Linked DNA regions of Homo sapiens: region 2 is linked to region 1. The links come from fine-mapping of genetic effects on gene expression. Tissue or cell type: subcutaneous fat. Region 1 holds a variant in brackets; the other region holds the start of a gene. All regions are shown on one strand. Distances are from middle to middle.

What was found. PIP is the estimated chance that this variant, and not a neighbour inherited with it, causes the effect.
Region 2: DCK starts here. The variant in region 1 is fine-mapped to the expression of DCK in subcutaneous fat (GTEx, PIP above 0.99).

Annotation. Positions count from the first base shown.
Region 1 is chr4:71,136,171-71,144,170 of GRCh38, forward strand. It overlaps a transcript of SLC4A4 not described here. Among named protein-coding and RNA genes, the nearest start is that of SLC4A4, 47 kb to the right of the region's middle. The variant A/G (reference allele first, on the strand shown) is at 3,936.
Region 2 is chr4:70,990,413-70,998,559 of GRCh38, forward strand. It overlaps DCK (deoxycytidine kinase), which reads left to right and starts at 3,237. Exons shown (of 7, transcript NM_000788.3): 1 at 3,237-3,514; 2 at 7,655-7,770. The coding sequence starts at 3,424. RefSeq lists a silencer at 2,973-3,312 and an enhancer at 3,483-3,662.

The sequences.
Region 1 (8,000 bases):
TAGCATTCATCTTATCTCAGGGCCTTTAGCTGGGTGCTCTAGGGCTAGGGAACTCAATACTAAACAACATGTCATTGACAAACCAGAGACCAGCAGAACTGGATTCAAGCCTGATGTAGTTACAGAAGAGCCCTCATGCATAGCTGAATGCTTTTCTCACTAATCTTCTATAGGAATGTATGTTTTGAGTTCTCTTGAGAGAGAGCCAGAAGTTCACCTGCCACTTGGAACAGATTTAGAGCAGAGCTAATTTTTGCCCTTTAGTGACCACTGAAGAGTCAGTGTTAGTGCGGGGTTGCCTGTTAACCCCATGTGGTGATGTACAGCATTGTCTGAGGACCCATCTTGGAGGGACCATGTGAGATTCCAAAAAGGACTCAAGACTCAGTTATGGTTTTATAATTTCAAGGATCAGTATACTGTAAGAGTAAGGGTTCTGCTGTCAGACGAACTGATTTGAGATAGCATTTCCCCCATGCATTAACTATGTAACTTTGAGCAAGTTACATAATCTCTTGGATTCTCAGTTTCTCATTAATATACATGTGGTAATAGCAGTACTACCTCAAGGAGTGTTAGGTGGGCTAAATGAGATGATGAGTCTGGCATCCCTCTATAATCCCTGAAATAATAATAACAGCAATAGCATTTTTTTTGGTGCAACTTAGTATAAGGTTGGCACAGTATTAAGCACATTACATGCTTTACATACAAAGAGGCTGTATTACTATCTCCAGGGTAATGTTAGATGAAGAAGCTGAAACTTTTGCCTAAATCCAAGGTCTATGCTCTTACTCTTGACCAAAGAAGAGGTACCTCTGTGTCCTGGTAGTTCTATGCCATAAAACTGGCTACAGGAACTTTTGAGAATATAATATCATGACCAGTCTGGCTCCCTTACCAGTTTGTTCACCAACTTTCCAAGGTGGAGCAGATCTCTATTACTGATAAGATTAGCTCTGCCCCAGACTCCACTGTAATCAAGGAGAAAATAATTAGCTCCAAGCCGAGAGACATCTGCCCGCTGACTCCACTCTGACTCTATATTGAAGTTATGATAGAAGCCCTCATCTTTCACCCCAGTTCTGATAACTGGATCCCTGTCATATTTCCTTTTGTCCCCACACCAAAGTTCCTCAAGAGTCATCCTCCATTGATTGCTAATCCAAGAAACTTCTTGATCACTTATCTATCTAGACATCAGTCTGCCCAGCATTCCTCCTATGGCATGGAAAGTGGTGCTTAGATTCTTAGCCTGAAGTGACTTTTCCATCCATTCATTAATTAATTCATTAAATAATATTTAGTGAACATGACCACTGCATTCCTGATCTCAAGATACAAGGTCCTTTAACCACCCTCTCTTTTAGAACTGTCTCGTTACTTGAACAAACTCTCATTCTAATAGTTCCTAGTTCTGCCACAACTTCATTCTTCCCTTTGCTTTCTGCAAATTTCATGGACAGCCAACAATCTTAGGATAGAAAATTCTCAAGTGGTTGCTGCCTGTCCACCTTGGAAACTTGAGCTCCAAGGGCAGCTCTAATCACTGGTTTCATCACAGAAAAAGAAGTGGAGCTGAATAAAGCAGCTGAGGTTGAAGTCCATTGTGTTAACTCAAGGAAAACGTTTTTTTCGTTTCTCGCTTGTTTTGCTCACAAGTATAAAGACAAAGAACTACTTTAATAGGAAGTTTCAGTCACAAAGAAATTTCACAAAGAAACAAACCCAATACTGTACTTTGGTTGATAAGAGAGGTTTCTAACACACAGAGAAAATGCACTGGGGGCTTCTCTTTTGTTGATATTGTGCCCTAATCAAAATATCTTGTTAGATTTTCAATAAGAATGCTCCATGGCTATATTTGCCAAATTCATTTCTATATTTAACAGTGTCATAGCAGGTCTCTAAAAGATAGATTTCATGCAATATGTTAGTGTGCCCTTGGAATGACAAACCAGGTAGTTAAGTTGATTAATGGAGGATATGTTTATTCACTACTTTGAATAAAACACAGTCAGAGGGGTCAATAAGTGAACTCTTCGTGGAGGCCAGTGTTATCACCTCTATTAATATATTAATACTATCCATTCCTTGCTTGCCTCACTAATCAATTTTTTTTAATATTAGTTTTCAGGCCAGGCTCTTTCTCAAGGCTTGTCCAGGCAAACATGATAAAGCACAGGTTCCAATCAAATGACGATCATGGTTGGTGTAAACTCTCTTGCAACACATTAAGCAGAGCCTATGGGAAAGAACTTGCCTAGCAGGAAAATAAAGGTGCAGCCAAGGACACACCAAGCCTTTCTGTCCTTCTTTTAGGGAAATTCGTGCACTGTTACATCTCACTCGGTTCATATTATCTTCAAGGATCTGTACAGTCAGTGAACAAAGTTCTCTTGAACAAGCTAATTTCAAGGTTCACAGATTATCCAAACACCATTTCTTTTCTGGACTGACTGTATGCTTCCACCTTTATCACAGTGATTCACACTTCCCTGCCAGTGGACGTGAATTCTTTATTTTGCAGGAGGGAAGAAGGCTGGTTGGGTATGTTGGGGGCCAGGTAAAGAATCAGTAAGTTGGCCGGGCGCGGTGGCTCACGCCTGTAATCCCAGCACTTTGGGAGGCCAAGGAGGGCGGATCACGAGGTCAGGAGATTGAGACCATTCTGCCTAACACGGTGAAACCCTGTCTCTACTGAAAATATAAAAAATTAGCCAGGCGTGGTGGTGGGCGCCTGCAGTCCCAGCTACTCAGGAGGCTGAGGCGGGAGAACGGTGTGAACCCGGGAGGCGGAGCTTGCAGTGAGCAGAGATCGTGCCACTGCACTCCAGCCTGGGCGACAGAGTGAGACTCCGTCTCAAAAAAAAAAAAAAAAAAAAAAAAGAATCAGTGAGTCAATAATGCAATAATGGATCCTTCTTTCTCTATTTAACCACAAGGGATCATTCGGTTGGAAGGGTAATGGTGATTAATCAAAGTCATCAAACTAAATTCCCTTTTCTTTGTGTGTGTGTGTGTGTGTGTGTGTGTGTGTGTGTGTGTATTTCTGGCAGCACTGGACCTCACTCCCACTTAGCAACCATTGACTTTTGGTGTGAATTGGCCGCCTCCTGTGGATGAGGCTGAAATCCTCCACTTTTCTACAATCTTCCTGCTTATTGCTGTCCCACTCCTGGTCCTCTTCATCCATTTACAACACCTGCCTTGCCCCACTTCTGGAGACTGTGAGGTTGTTCACCCCTGTTTTCACACTAGAACCCTGGTGAGGTTCTATCAGGCCAAACTCCAACTTTTAGAAGCCTAGAAAGTAAGATGCTCATGTTGGAAATACTTCCGACCCTGTGGGCATCCCTAGCAGTTGATGATAAGCCCTGCCCATGTTCCTGGCGATTTTCAGCATGCCCCAGCCCACATCCATCTGCGAATGTCTCCATCTCTGTACCTGTGGGCATTTTCTTCCAGATTCGTATAGTTTGCTCTGGCCATTCACTTGCTAATCTGCTTCTTTTTTCCTTATTTCAATTTTATTTATTTATTTCACTGATACATAGTATTTGTACATATTTATGGGGTACATGTAATATTTTGTTTCATGCATAGAATGTGTAATGATCAAATCAGGGTTTTTAGGATATCAACCATCTTGAGCATTTATCATTTTTATATGTTGGGAATATTTCAAATTCTCTCTTCTAGCTATTTTGAAATATGCAATACATTGTTGTTAATCATAGTCACCCTATTCTGCTATTTAATATTAGAACTTAATCCTTCTATCTAACTGTATATTTGTACCCATTATACTATCTCTCTTAATCCTCTCTGCTTCTGTTTGGGATGGTCAAGGTGCTTAATTTTCTCTTTCCAGCTTCTCCCTTTTCTTGGATTTTCTAGTGAAGCTATTTTTAAATGGGTTGTTTTGAACACAT[A/G]GCATCCAATGGGAATAAACAAAATCTCTGCTGGCCAGGCATAGTGGCTCACGCTTGTAATCCCGGACCTTTGGGAGACGAAGGTAGGCAGATGGCTTGAGCTCAGGAGTTCAAGACCAGCCTGGGCAACATGGTGAAACCCTGACGCTACAGAAAATACAACAAATTAGCTGGGCATGGTGATGCGCACCTGAAGTCCCAGCTACTCAGGAGGCTGAGGGGGGAGGATTGATTGAGTCCAGGAAGTTGAGGTTGCAGTGAGCCATGATTGTGCCACTGCACTCTAGCCTGAGCGACAAAATGAGACCCTGTTGCAAAAACAAAACAAACAAACAAAACCTCTGCTAATGACTTCCAAATGTATATCTTCAACGGTGACTCTTTTTAATCTCCATACTCATATATTTAATTGCCTTGAATTTCCAGTTGTATTCATCACAGGCATCACAAACACATTATTTTGATTTTTCCTTCCAAAGCTGCTCTGCCCCAACCCCACTCACTGCCCCAGCCTGCCTCATCTCATTAAATTGCACCATTTACACTGCATTAAGTTGCTCAGATCTCAAACCTAGGACTCATTCTTGATTCCTCTCTTATTTCCTTCCTCATCATATGACGATCTGTTGGCTTACTTTCAAAACGTGTGTCAAATATGACCACTTCTCATCACCTCCACTGCTACACCTGTCATTCAAGATACCACCTATCATCTCTCACTAGGATGATTGCAAAGACTCCTAAGCTTCCACTGTTTTTAAAAATTGTAAATTGAAAACTTAGAATTATATACAAAATTTGTGGGATACAAAGTTATGTTATAATTTATGAATATAATGTGGGATAATTAAATTAAGCTAGTTAACATATCCATTACCTCAAATACTTAGCATTTTTTGTGGAGAGAATATTTGAAATTTACTTCCTTAGCAATTGTGAAATGTATGATATTCTATTATTAACTACGTTCATCATACTGAGCAATAGAACTCAAAAAAGAAAAACAAAACATATTCTTTCTGTCTGAGATTTTGTACCCTTTGATTCTCATCTCCCCATCCTCCCCATTCCCCAGCCTCTGTAACCATACTTTTCTTCTATGAGTTCGATTATTTCAGCTTCCACATATAAGTGAAAAATGTAAGCTTTCATTCTTGCCCCACTTTCAGTATGATCTTATAGCCACAGTGATCATGTGACCTGCTTGCTTAAAACCCTTACATCACTTTCTGTTACATACAGAGCCATGTTTACAAGGCCCCTGTGATCTTTTAAGGCTCATTTTCCACTATTCTTTCCCTCATTCATGCTGCTCCAGCTACACTGTCTCAAACATTTCAAGATTTTCCCATCTCAGAAGCTGTGTATTTCTCCTTTTGGGCATGTTCTTCTCTTGGGCATGCTTCTTTTCTTGGTTGTCCTTCCCTCATACCTTTGCCTGGCTTGCTCCCTCTCACTTCACTTGGGTCTCAGCTCAAATGTCTTCACTCTTTCAGAAATGTCTACATAACCACATGGCCATAAATAAATATATTGTAAAAACTTGTTTGTATTTTGTTTTCCCCATGGAAATAAGTCCCAAATTGTCAAGAACCTTGTTTGCCTTGCTTATTAGTATTCCCCAACACTTAGAACAGTGCCTGGAACATATTATGCTTAAAAAATATTGGATGGATGAATCAATTCATTGATATATACTAAAGTGAGAACTAAAGTGAATTGAATTAAATCAGCAAAGCTCTCAAGCTTGGCTTGAATCAATGTTTGGAGAATAGAAGAATGAATAAGGAAGAAGACAATTTCATTAGCTTAGGTAGCTACTTTCTAACCTTTCCCATCTTTTAATTGAAAGGCTGGCCCTACAATATAATAGCACTTACTGATAACTTATTATATCCAAAGCATTAGAGTGGGGAATACAAAATTGCATCAGACCTGATCTCAAACTTTTTGTGTATGTGTGTGTGTATATAATAGAGACAGGTTTAATCAAAGAGGAGTAAGAAAACTTCTGATACAAACTATAGGTACTCACTGCTCTATAATTAGACCTAATTCATAAAAACTTGTAAGATATTTTGCGGTGAGCAGTATAGCTTTAGGACAGAGCTTCTCAATGAGTTTGCTAGTTGCAAGTTTGCCTCATGAGTAGCCGCTTTCTTTTACTAAAACTAACACAAACATATTAAAACTAAAACTAAACACTGCATATAAAAAGAGTGGGAAGCAATGCAGCTTCAGAGGAGAAAGAGTTCTGTTTGGGCGTTGGCTAAAGTAATCTTTCTGGGACCTTATAGGGCTACTTCAGGCATCTATGGCATTCAAACTCAACTATGGCTTTTGCTGCTCCCTGTTTTAGGAGAAAATAGTGCCTCAGTGATGCTACCTTAAATTTCTTACTTTCTTTCTTTTTGTTTGTTTGTTTGAGAAAGGTCTCACTCTGTTACCCAGGCAGGAGAGTGATGTTATCAATGTCAGGTATCCAGTAATGACATAGCCGAGGCTACCTCCTGTCAGAGGAAATTCACCAACCTGAGTCTTCGGCTTTTTGCAGCATCTTTCTGTTGTTCTTGGAGATGCTATCTAGCAGTTGAAAATATAGTAGAGTGAATGCAACTCTCTCCAGCCATTCCAAAGGCACAAACTTTTCTCACTCTTTTTTTTTTTTTTTTTTTTTTTTAGCTTTCTACAGCTTTAATTTGGTTTGGATCCCATGCCCATGACCCTGCCAACTGACAATTCTAGGCATGCGCAAACTGGCCCCAAAAATTCCTCCCACCTTTCCAAAGAACTATTTGGCACTTTATGTGAAGTACCTGGTTTTTCCATTTTCTTTCCTTTTTATTATTATTATTATTATACTTTAAGTTTTAGGGTACATGTGCACAACCTGCAGGTTTGTTACATATGTATACATGTGCCATGTTGGTGTGCTGCACCCAGTAACTCGTCATTTAGCATTAGGTATATCTCCTAACGCCATCTCTCCCCCATCCCCCCACCATGCAACCATCCCCGGTGTGTGATGTTCCCCTTCCTGTGTCCATGTGTTTTCATTGTTCATTTCCCACCTATGAGTGAGAACATGCAGTGTTTGGTTTTTTGTCCTTGTGATAGTTTGCTGAGAGTGATGGTTTCCAGCTTCATCCATGTCCCTACAAAGGACATGAACTCATCATTTTTTATGGCTGCATAGTATTCCATGGTGTATATGTGCCACATTTTCTTAATCCAGTCTATCATTGTTGGACATTTGGGTTGGTTCCAAGTCTTTGCTATTGTGAATAGTGCCGCAGTAGACATACGTGTGCATGTGTCTTTATAGCAGCATGATTTATAATCCTTTGGGTATATACCCAGTAATGGGATTGCTGGGTCAAATGGTATTTCTAATTCTAGATCCCTGAGGAATCACCACACCGACTTCCACAATGGTTGAACTAGTTTACAGTCCCATCAACAGTGTAAAAGTGTTCCCATTTCTCCACATCCTCTCCAGCACCTGTTGTTTCCTGACTTTTTAATGATCGCCATTCTAACTGGTGTGAGATGGTATCTCATTGTGGTTTTGATTTGCATTTCTCTGATGGCCAGTGATGATAGCATTTTACTGTGTCTTTTGGCTGCATAAATGTCTTCTTTTGAGAAGTGTCTGTTCATATCCTTTGTCCACTTTTTGATGGTGTTGTTTGTTTTTTTCTTGTAAATTTGTTTGAGTTCATTGTAGATTCTGGATATTAGCCCTTTGTCAGATGAGTGGGTTGCAAAAATTTTCTCCCATTCTGTAGGTTGCCTGTTCACTCTGATGGTAGTTTCTTTTGCTGTGCAGAAGCTCTTGAGTTTAATTAGATCCCATTTGTCAATGTTGGCTTTTGTTGCCATTGCTTTTGGTGTTTTAGTCATGAAGTCCTTGCCCATGCCTATGTCCTGAATGGTATTGCCTAGGTTTTCTTCCAGGGTTTTTATGGTTTTAGGTCTAACATGTAAGTATTTAATCTATTTTGAATTAATTTTTGTATAAGGTGTAAGAAAGGGATCCAGTTTCAGCTTTCTACATATGGTTAG
Region 2 (8,147 bases), 150 kb before region 1:
GCTAGTTTTTGTATCTTTAGTAGAGACAGGGTTTCGCCATGTTGGCCAGGTTGGTCTCGAACTCCTGAACTCAGGTAATCTGTCCATCTCGGCCTCCCACAGTGTTGGGATTACAGGCGTGAGCCACCGTGCTTGGCCCCAAAGGTATTTTTTTTGAATTCAGTGCAAACTTATTCTGACCAGATGTTAATAGTCTTTATCCCACTTCATGTTAACACTCTTTGTTTCACTGCAAAATATTAGTGCATTTGATTTAACACCTCTGCAGGGGGAGTGGGGGTGCTTACTTAATAATTAATATACAGTATATGCACTGTATCGTTTCTAAAGTTTCGATTCCAAATTTTATTATTGAGACGGGGTCTTGCTGCTGTGTCACTCAGGCTGGCATGCAGTGGCGCGATCATAGCTTACTAAAGCTAAAACTTTGCAGGCCCAAACCATCCTCCCACCTCAGCCTCCTGAGTAGCTGGGACCACAGGTGTGTGCCACCACAACCAGCTAATTTTTGTATTTTTTCTATTAGTTTCGCCATGTTTCCCTGGTTGGTCTCGAATTCCTGAGCTCAAGCATTCCAGAGTACCTCCCAAAGTGCTGGGATTATAGGCAAGAGCCACTGCGTCCAGCCAGTTCCAAAGTTTAGAATTTCTTTTCTAAAAATCTTTTCTAAAAGTTTTAAATTCTGAAACATCTGGCTGCCAGGGTTTTAGATAAGAGATTGTGGACCAAAAATCAAGATGTTTTGAAAAGTGCTTTTCTCTGTTCTCTCCTTGTGTTACCCCCAGGTCATGTAGGAAAATGGGAAATTATGCTGGACTTAATGCCAAAAAAGCTAGATTCTTTGCTTCCCCCATTTACTTTGTTGTTGTTAGTTGAGACAGGATCTCACTGGAGTACAGTGGCATGATCTTGGCTCACTGCAGCCTTGACTCCCTGGCTTCGGTAATTCTCCCACCTCAGCCTCCCAAATAGTTGGGACTACAGGCGCCTGGCTAATTTTTCTATTTTTTGTAGAGACAAGAGTTTTGCCATGTTGCCCAGGCTAGTCTCAAACTCCTGGGCTCAAGCGATTCACCTGCCTCGGCCTCCCACATTTGTATTTTTCAAAGTATACTCTTAAGCTCAGATGAATTCAAGTTTTTGCAGCCAGAAACTGGTAGAACTGGTGTTTGAAATCTTTCATTTTCCAGTGCTTAAACTCTTCATCATTGTAAGATACTTCTTGTGTGGGTCTTTTTTGTGGAAACCACACTTGGAGATTTCTACTCCTTAACCCCAAGCCTCTTTATGACATCCATCCAGGACCAGCTCTGCTTTCCTGTTGAAGGTCTCAAGAGACTTGCCTTCCTCCTCTCGGTAGCTGCCAGTACTCTTACCATTTCATGAGTTTTCCCCCAAGCTTGGCTGTGAAATGTGATACCTATTAGCTTCCGCAGCACCTTTCTCCCAACTTCCTTGCTATACCTGATGACAACTCTTCAGGCCTCTTATATTCCTAGGATCTTGCTATTAATCACTATAGGGATAAGTAAAAGTAATATATACAAAATAATTGCATAACAGAATAATATAGGGCAGTTACATAGAATGATTCTTGCTGTTTAATCCTGGAAAATGTGATCCCCGAGGATTCACATTTTAATTTCTGCTCTTTATTTCTGAGGATGGAGTCACCGTTTTCCCCTTCTGGCTACACATTTAGATGCATTTCAGGTCTGATGATAGTTGCAATGTAAAAAAGAATAGCAAGGCCTTTGGTTTCTGTAGACAATTTGGACCAGATAACTTCCAGACTGGGTAATATCCGGTTTATTAGTGTTACTGGATGGGAAGTCTTGACTGAGTTGTCTGGGTTTTTGGCGTGTTGAACAAAGAATTGAACAAAACGTAGAAACAAAGCAACAAAAGAAGCAACGAAAGACAAAACAACAAAAGAACGAAGTAACAAAAGCACAAATTTATTGAAGCGAACCAAGTGCTTCAAGAGTCCCAATTGCAGTGTTCTTAAGGGTTACTAGGCTAAAAGAATTTGGTAAATCCCTAGGTGCCCTTTACAGTCGTCCAATTGGTTGCACCCTATGAAGGATTGGCCTGCGACCAATCAGAGGCTGAAATGGAGATGGCCGAGGACAATCAGAGGCGATGTGGAAACTTCTGTCTTGTAATCACAGGAGTGAAGGTGTGGCCTGTATGCTGCCTAGTCTTGCCTAGAAATTGCTGCACCTGCTGTTCTTTTGCTTATGCCTTAACCCTTGGTTACCCTAATTCCCTATTCTCTTGCCTCATTAGGTCTTTACCCTGACTAAAAATGCACTCATCTAGCTGGGACAAATCCTACACTGCATTTGTCCCATCTAGATGAGTATTCTAGCAGAGTACATGGCACATGAGTAGGCATTCAAAAATTCAACATACAGTACATTTTGTTACCTATGTGCCAGGTGTCGGGCAGGCTGAGTTAACAGCTGAACAGAAACCTACCTACCCAACGTGCTAACTTCTATACAGCATGGTCGTGCATCCAAATCAAATGGAAAGCGGTATGGGAGATCTGGAAAGGCCTCCTGTGGGTGGCATCTGACTACCTAAATTCCCATCCCAGTTTCACTTACTGACTTTGACACTTGGAACAAGCAGCCTCTCAGTGCCTGTTTTCCCACTGGCAGGTAAATGGGCTAATGACGGTATTTCTGGCACTAGACTTCGTTAATTAATGAAAAGCACATAGAAGAAAACAGCCTGGCTCTCTAAGTGGGCAGTGCGATTCCCAAGGACGGCACTTCGCCTGATAGTCTTCCTCTAGGCTGAGAAGCCAGAGTAAATCCATTTGATTTTCCTACCACACAGTGCCTTCTCCCCAGATGAGTTCAAAGCTTTAAGTCTATCCAGTTCTGTCCAGACGCGTCTGTTCATCTCCAACAGGCCCACTAGAGAGGCGGGTTTTCCAAAGCCTGGCACGGCCCACTGCAGGTGACGCCCTCTGCCCTCCAGCGCCCTCAGGCCTCTGGGGTCCACCCTTCCTCCCCACCCGACTCCGGAACCTCTTCCCGCGCCCTGCCCGGGCGCCTGGCTGCTTGGGGTAGAGGCCTTCCGCCACACGCGCGGCCCCGCCCCGGCCTTCACGTGACCTGGCGTGCGGAGCGCGCACGCGGGAACCCGCGCTGGAGGCGGGCGAGGGCCGAGGGGCAGCTAGGGAGCGCGGCTTGAGGAGGGCGGGGCCGCCCCGCAGGCCCGCCAGTGTCCTCAGCTGCCTCCGCGCGCCAAAGTCAAACCCCGACACCCGCCGGCGGGCCGGTGAGCTCACTAGCTGACCCGGCAGGTCAGGATCTGGCTTAGCGGCGCCGCGAGCTCCAGTGCGCGCACCCGTGGCCGCCTCCCAGCCCTCTTTGCCGGACGAGCTCTGGGCCGCCACAAGACTAAGGAATGGCCACCCCGCCCAAGAGAAGCTGCCCGTCTTTCTCAGCCAGCTCTGAGGGGACCCGCATCAAGAAAATCTCCATCGAAGGGAACATCGGTAAGGAGCCTCCGGAAATGTGGGACGCAAGGCTGGGGTGTCGCGGCAGTGGCTGAAGCTTCCCTTCGCCGCATCTCTCTGCAGCAACTCGGTGAGGGCTTTCCCTCCAGCCTGGCGGTGTGGACGCGGCCTCGGCTTCCTTTCCCACCCAGAGCATCCTTCCCTTACCTCCCGCTCCACGGGGTGACTGCGGTCCCCGGGGTCAGACTGGGCGCCAGGCCTGCGGTCTCTGTGAGGCGCGCTTTGAACCTCTGCTCCCTCTTTGTTGGGAACTCGCAAAGGGAAGCGGGGGAAGGGTATTAGATTTCTTGAGGTGTAACTTACATTAAATTCACCCTTTTTAGGTGTACTCTTCTATGAGGTTTGACAAACATTATGCCTTTTGCTATCACCATGATCGAGATACAGAACATTTTCATCACCTTAGAAAGTTCCTACCTGCTCCTTTGTATTCAGCCCCCTCCACCCTTCCTATTCCCTGGCACCCACTGATTTGATTTCTATCCCTGCAAGTGTTGCCTTTTCCAGAATGCCATATAAATGGAATCATAGGCTATATCGCCTTTTGTGTCTGGCGTCTTTCATTTAGCATAATGCTTTTGAAATTCATTCATGTTACTTGTGTCTGTAGTTTGTTTCTTTTTATTGCTGAGTAGTATTCCATTGCATGGATGTACCATCGTTTATCCATTTTCTAGTTGTGGACCTCAGGGTTGTTTACAGTTTTTTAGCTATATTATTAGCGAAGCATTGTTTTAGCTATATTATTAACGAAACTCGAAACATTCGAGTACAAGCAAAGAGGTCTTTAATGATCTTAATAGCATGGAGTTCCTCACCCCTTACTCCACATCCAAGTAAACATTGGATTATGATTCAAAGACCACTAACGTTTCTGTTAACTCAGATGGGGGGCAGACTAGGCCATGCCTGTCACTTTGCAAGATACACACCAACGTCCGATTCTTCTGTATCTCCAACCACAGGAAACCTACCCCTGAAACTTCCTGTTTTGATAGATTTAAAAAAAAATTTTTTTAGCTCCAGGTTGGGTGCTGGTCATTCATGCATACAGCAAATTTTTTAAAATTCTTACCACATTCAAAGCACTGTACCTTCTTGAAAAAGGCCAGGCAAGCAGATGCTTTAAGCATTCAAATGAATAGAAAAACTGCATTCTCAAAGAGGACTTCTTATTTCATTGCTCCAGAATTAAAGCACCAGTAGAAAGACCATATGATATAATTAGCAATGTAAGTTATTTGAGGGTGCATGTTTACTAGTATGGAATCTCTGACAGCTGCTTACTGAATAAAGAAGACCATATATAAAGACAGGAGAAAGTGGCTGAACAAAGCCATCTGAAAAGTAAATTTGAGGCAGGGCATGGAGGCTCATACTTGTAATCCCAGGATTTGGGGAGGCTTAGGCAAGAGGATCACTTGAGTCCAGGAGTTCCAGATCAGCCTGGGCAACATAGTGAGAACTCATCTCCACAAAAAAATTAAAAAATTAGTTGCATGTGTTGGTGTGCCTCCAGCTACTCAGGAGGCTGAGGCAGGAGGATTGCTTGAGCCCAAAGATCAAGGCCACAGTGAGCCATGATCACACTACTGCACTCTAGCCTGGGTGACAGAGCAAGACTCTGTTAAAAACACAGAAACAAAACAGTAAAGTTGAATGAATAACCCCTCGGATCAATACCACAATACATTCATCCCCTTTCCCTCTCTCCAATCCAGTTAGGTAGCATCATATTTAGAAATATTTCCTCAAAGCATCTTTAATCTTTTCAGCAGCTGAAATAATTTCCTAATATATCATCCCATCTCCAGTTTCTCTTAACTACTTCTGCAACGGTCTTTTTGTATGCAAATGTCATGTGTTATCCCCTGCTTAAAATTCTTCACTGATTTTGCCTTTACCTACACTGAAAGTAGTTGTGAACTGATAGCCTGCAATTGCACAATATTGGCCTGCACAGGTTGAAAAAAAATTTTACTGGCCAGTGGCTCAAGCTTGTAATCCCAGTGCTTTGGGAGGCTGAGGCAGGAGGATTGCTTGAGGCCAGGAGTTTGAGACTAGCATGGCAACATAGTGAGAACTAGTCTCTAAGAAAAATAAAAATAAAATTAGGCCAGGCACAGTGGATCACGCCTGTAGCTCCAACTACTCAGGCGGCTGATGCTGATGTGGGAGGATCACTTGAATGTGGGAGGCAGAAGTTGCAGTGAGCTGAGATGGCACCACTGCACCCCAGCCTGGGTGACAGAGTCTCAAAAAAAAAAAAAAAGCCAGTTGTGTTAGCATGCACGTTTAGTCCTAGCTACTCAGGAGGCTGAGGTGGAGATCTTTGAGACCTATAGTTTGAGGCTGCCGTGAGCTGTGGTTGTGCCACTGCCCTACAGCCTGGGCTACAGAGTGAGACCCTGTGTCTAAAGAAAAAAAAATTAAATTTGTTGCTAACTCGAAAACGTTTTGAGATTTCCCATAAACAATTAGATTCTTGGCTTCTTTTGAAAAATCTGAAGATCTGTTAACACCGGGCCTGCATTTCTGTATGACAACAATTGGTGTTTAGATGGAGCATGTTCCTTGCCATTTTTCGTCTCCCTGACACTGAGACTTTGTTAGTTACTGTTCATTATTGGTCTTGCACTTTTGTTCATGTCTCCTTCACCTTATTTGCCAGATCCAAATAAGCTGTAAATGCACAAATTGTTAAGCTGTGCGTAAACTATTTTGCAATTCCTCTATTTTTCCTAGAATTTGAACTTTACTTGGTCGTTTTAGTTTTATATTTATATAACCCATCTTCTTATGTTCTGTGTTACTCAAATGTTCCCTTATGTTAGATTGATGGAGGACTTACCTGCTTCTCATCTTAATAGTCTGTTCAGAATGACTTTCAGCATTATAATGCCTGCTTGGCATTAGGAATTCTGTTAGTTTCCATGACTTTTTAAAGTATTAACATCAGTGTCTTTGGTTCTTGTTCTCCTTTGCCTTCATAGAAAATTAATTTATTAATTAGCTTATTTTCTAGCTCCCACTTTGCCCCAATAAGTTAAGGAACTAGATGTGTTAGTGTGATTGGGAACTCTAGCTGTTATTACTCTGCTTGAACTAAATGTAACTGTTATTACTCTTAGACTTTTTAAGTATGACCATATGAATTTTTCTGCTTGTAAGCAGTGTCAGAAGAAAGTTGAATGCTGTAGCCTTAAGTGCTTTCAGACTCTGGTGGATGCCTAATTTTTTTATTTGTTCCTTGGGTGCTATTTCTGAACATCATGTTCTCCTTTCCCTCTTCCATCTAGCTCAGTGAATGTGGGGTGTTCTTTCTATATGCTTTCACTTCCACTTAACATTCTTCTAAATGCTGTACAGTCCCTAAGCTTACACTCTCCATACTAAATTTTGGTGGCCAGTGTTTTTACCATGATTAAATCTCACTGTTATCCAGTTTATCGTTAAAAGTTTTTCTCCTCTCCTCTGGATACAGTTTACTTTGTGTTTTTCTTCTAAACTGTCTACCTGTGTCACCTTCTTTACTGCCTCGCTCCTGTTTTTTCTCTGTGTGTAATTCTTTAAAGTTCTTCCAGGTTTTTCTTCTTTTCTATTGCCCTGTCTAATGTCCTAGATTTAAATATAGTTCTGCAAGTCAAAGGTAAGTTCTTTCTACTCCCCATGGATCTAATTTATAAGGAAGAGGAAGCTTTGCTTGTAAGTATATTGAAGTTATTTATATGTTCATCTGTGTGTGTGTGCACGCACACACAGGGAAAGAGAGAGAACATTATGCTAACCAGAGATGTCTAATACAACCACATTTGGTGACTTCAGATATAAAGGGTGTGGTGGCCATTAGGAGTATTACTTCTAGGTCAAGACTGTCCCTACTATTAAATATAATATATTGTTAAACTAAACGTAATAAAAAACAAATGTGCTTAATGAAATTGGGCAGGGAGCCTTTTCATTTTCTTCTAAAGAAATATGAAGAGAAAGTTTAGAAAGTTGAATGTTTTGGGCTTTTTATGTTGCTTGCTATTGTAAATCTTGCAAAAGCTAATGACTACTTGACATCTTTTTTTCCTGACAACTTTTCTTCCTCAATTTTATCTTTCCTCACAACAGCTGCAGGGAAGTCAACATTTGTGAATATCCTTAAACAATTGTGTGAAGATTGGGAAGTGGTTCCTGAACCTGTTGCCAGATGGTGCAATGTTCAAAGTACTCAAGATGAATTTGAGGTATGAAAATAAAATTTAAGTAGATAAAAGCCTCTTGGTTTAGAGGAGCAGTAGTACTTAATCTCTTTTTCTTTTTCTTTTTCAATAAAACTTTCAAATCTCGCTTTAGGTATATATCTTCATCTAGGTGGTGGTTACATGGATATATATACAGTTGGCTCTCCATATCAATGGGTTTCAGATTGATATGGATTCAACCAATCATGAATAGAAAATATTCAGAAAGAAATAATACAAAAAAATACAAATAATAAAGGATTACTGTTCATATAGCATTTACATTGTATTAAGTATTATAAGTAATCTAGAGATGATTTATACTATTTGGGAGGATATATGCAGATACTACACCATTTTACATAAAGGACTTGAGTATA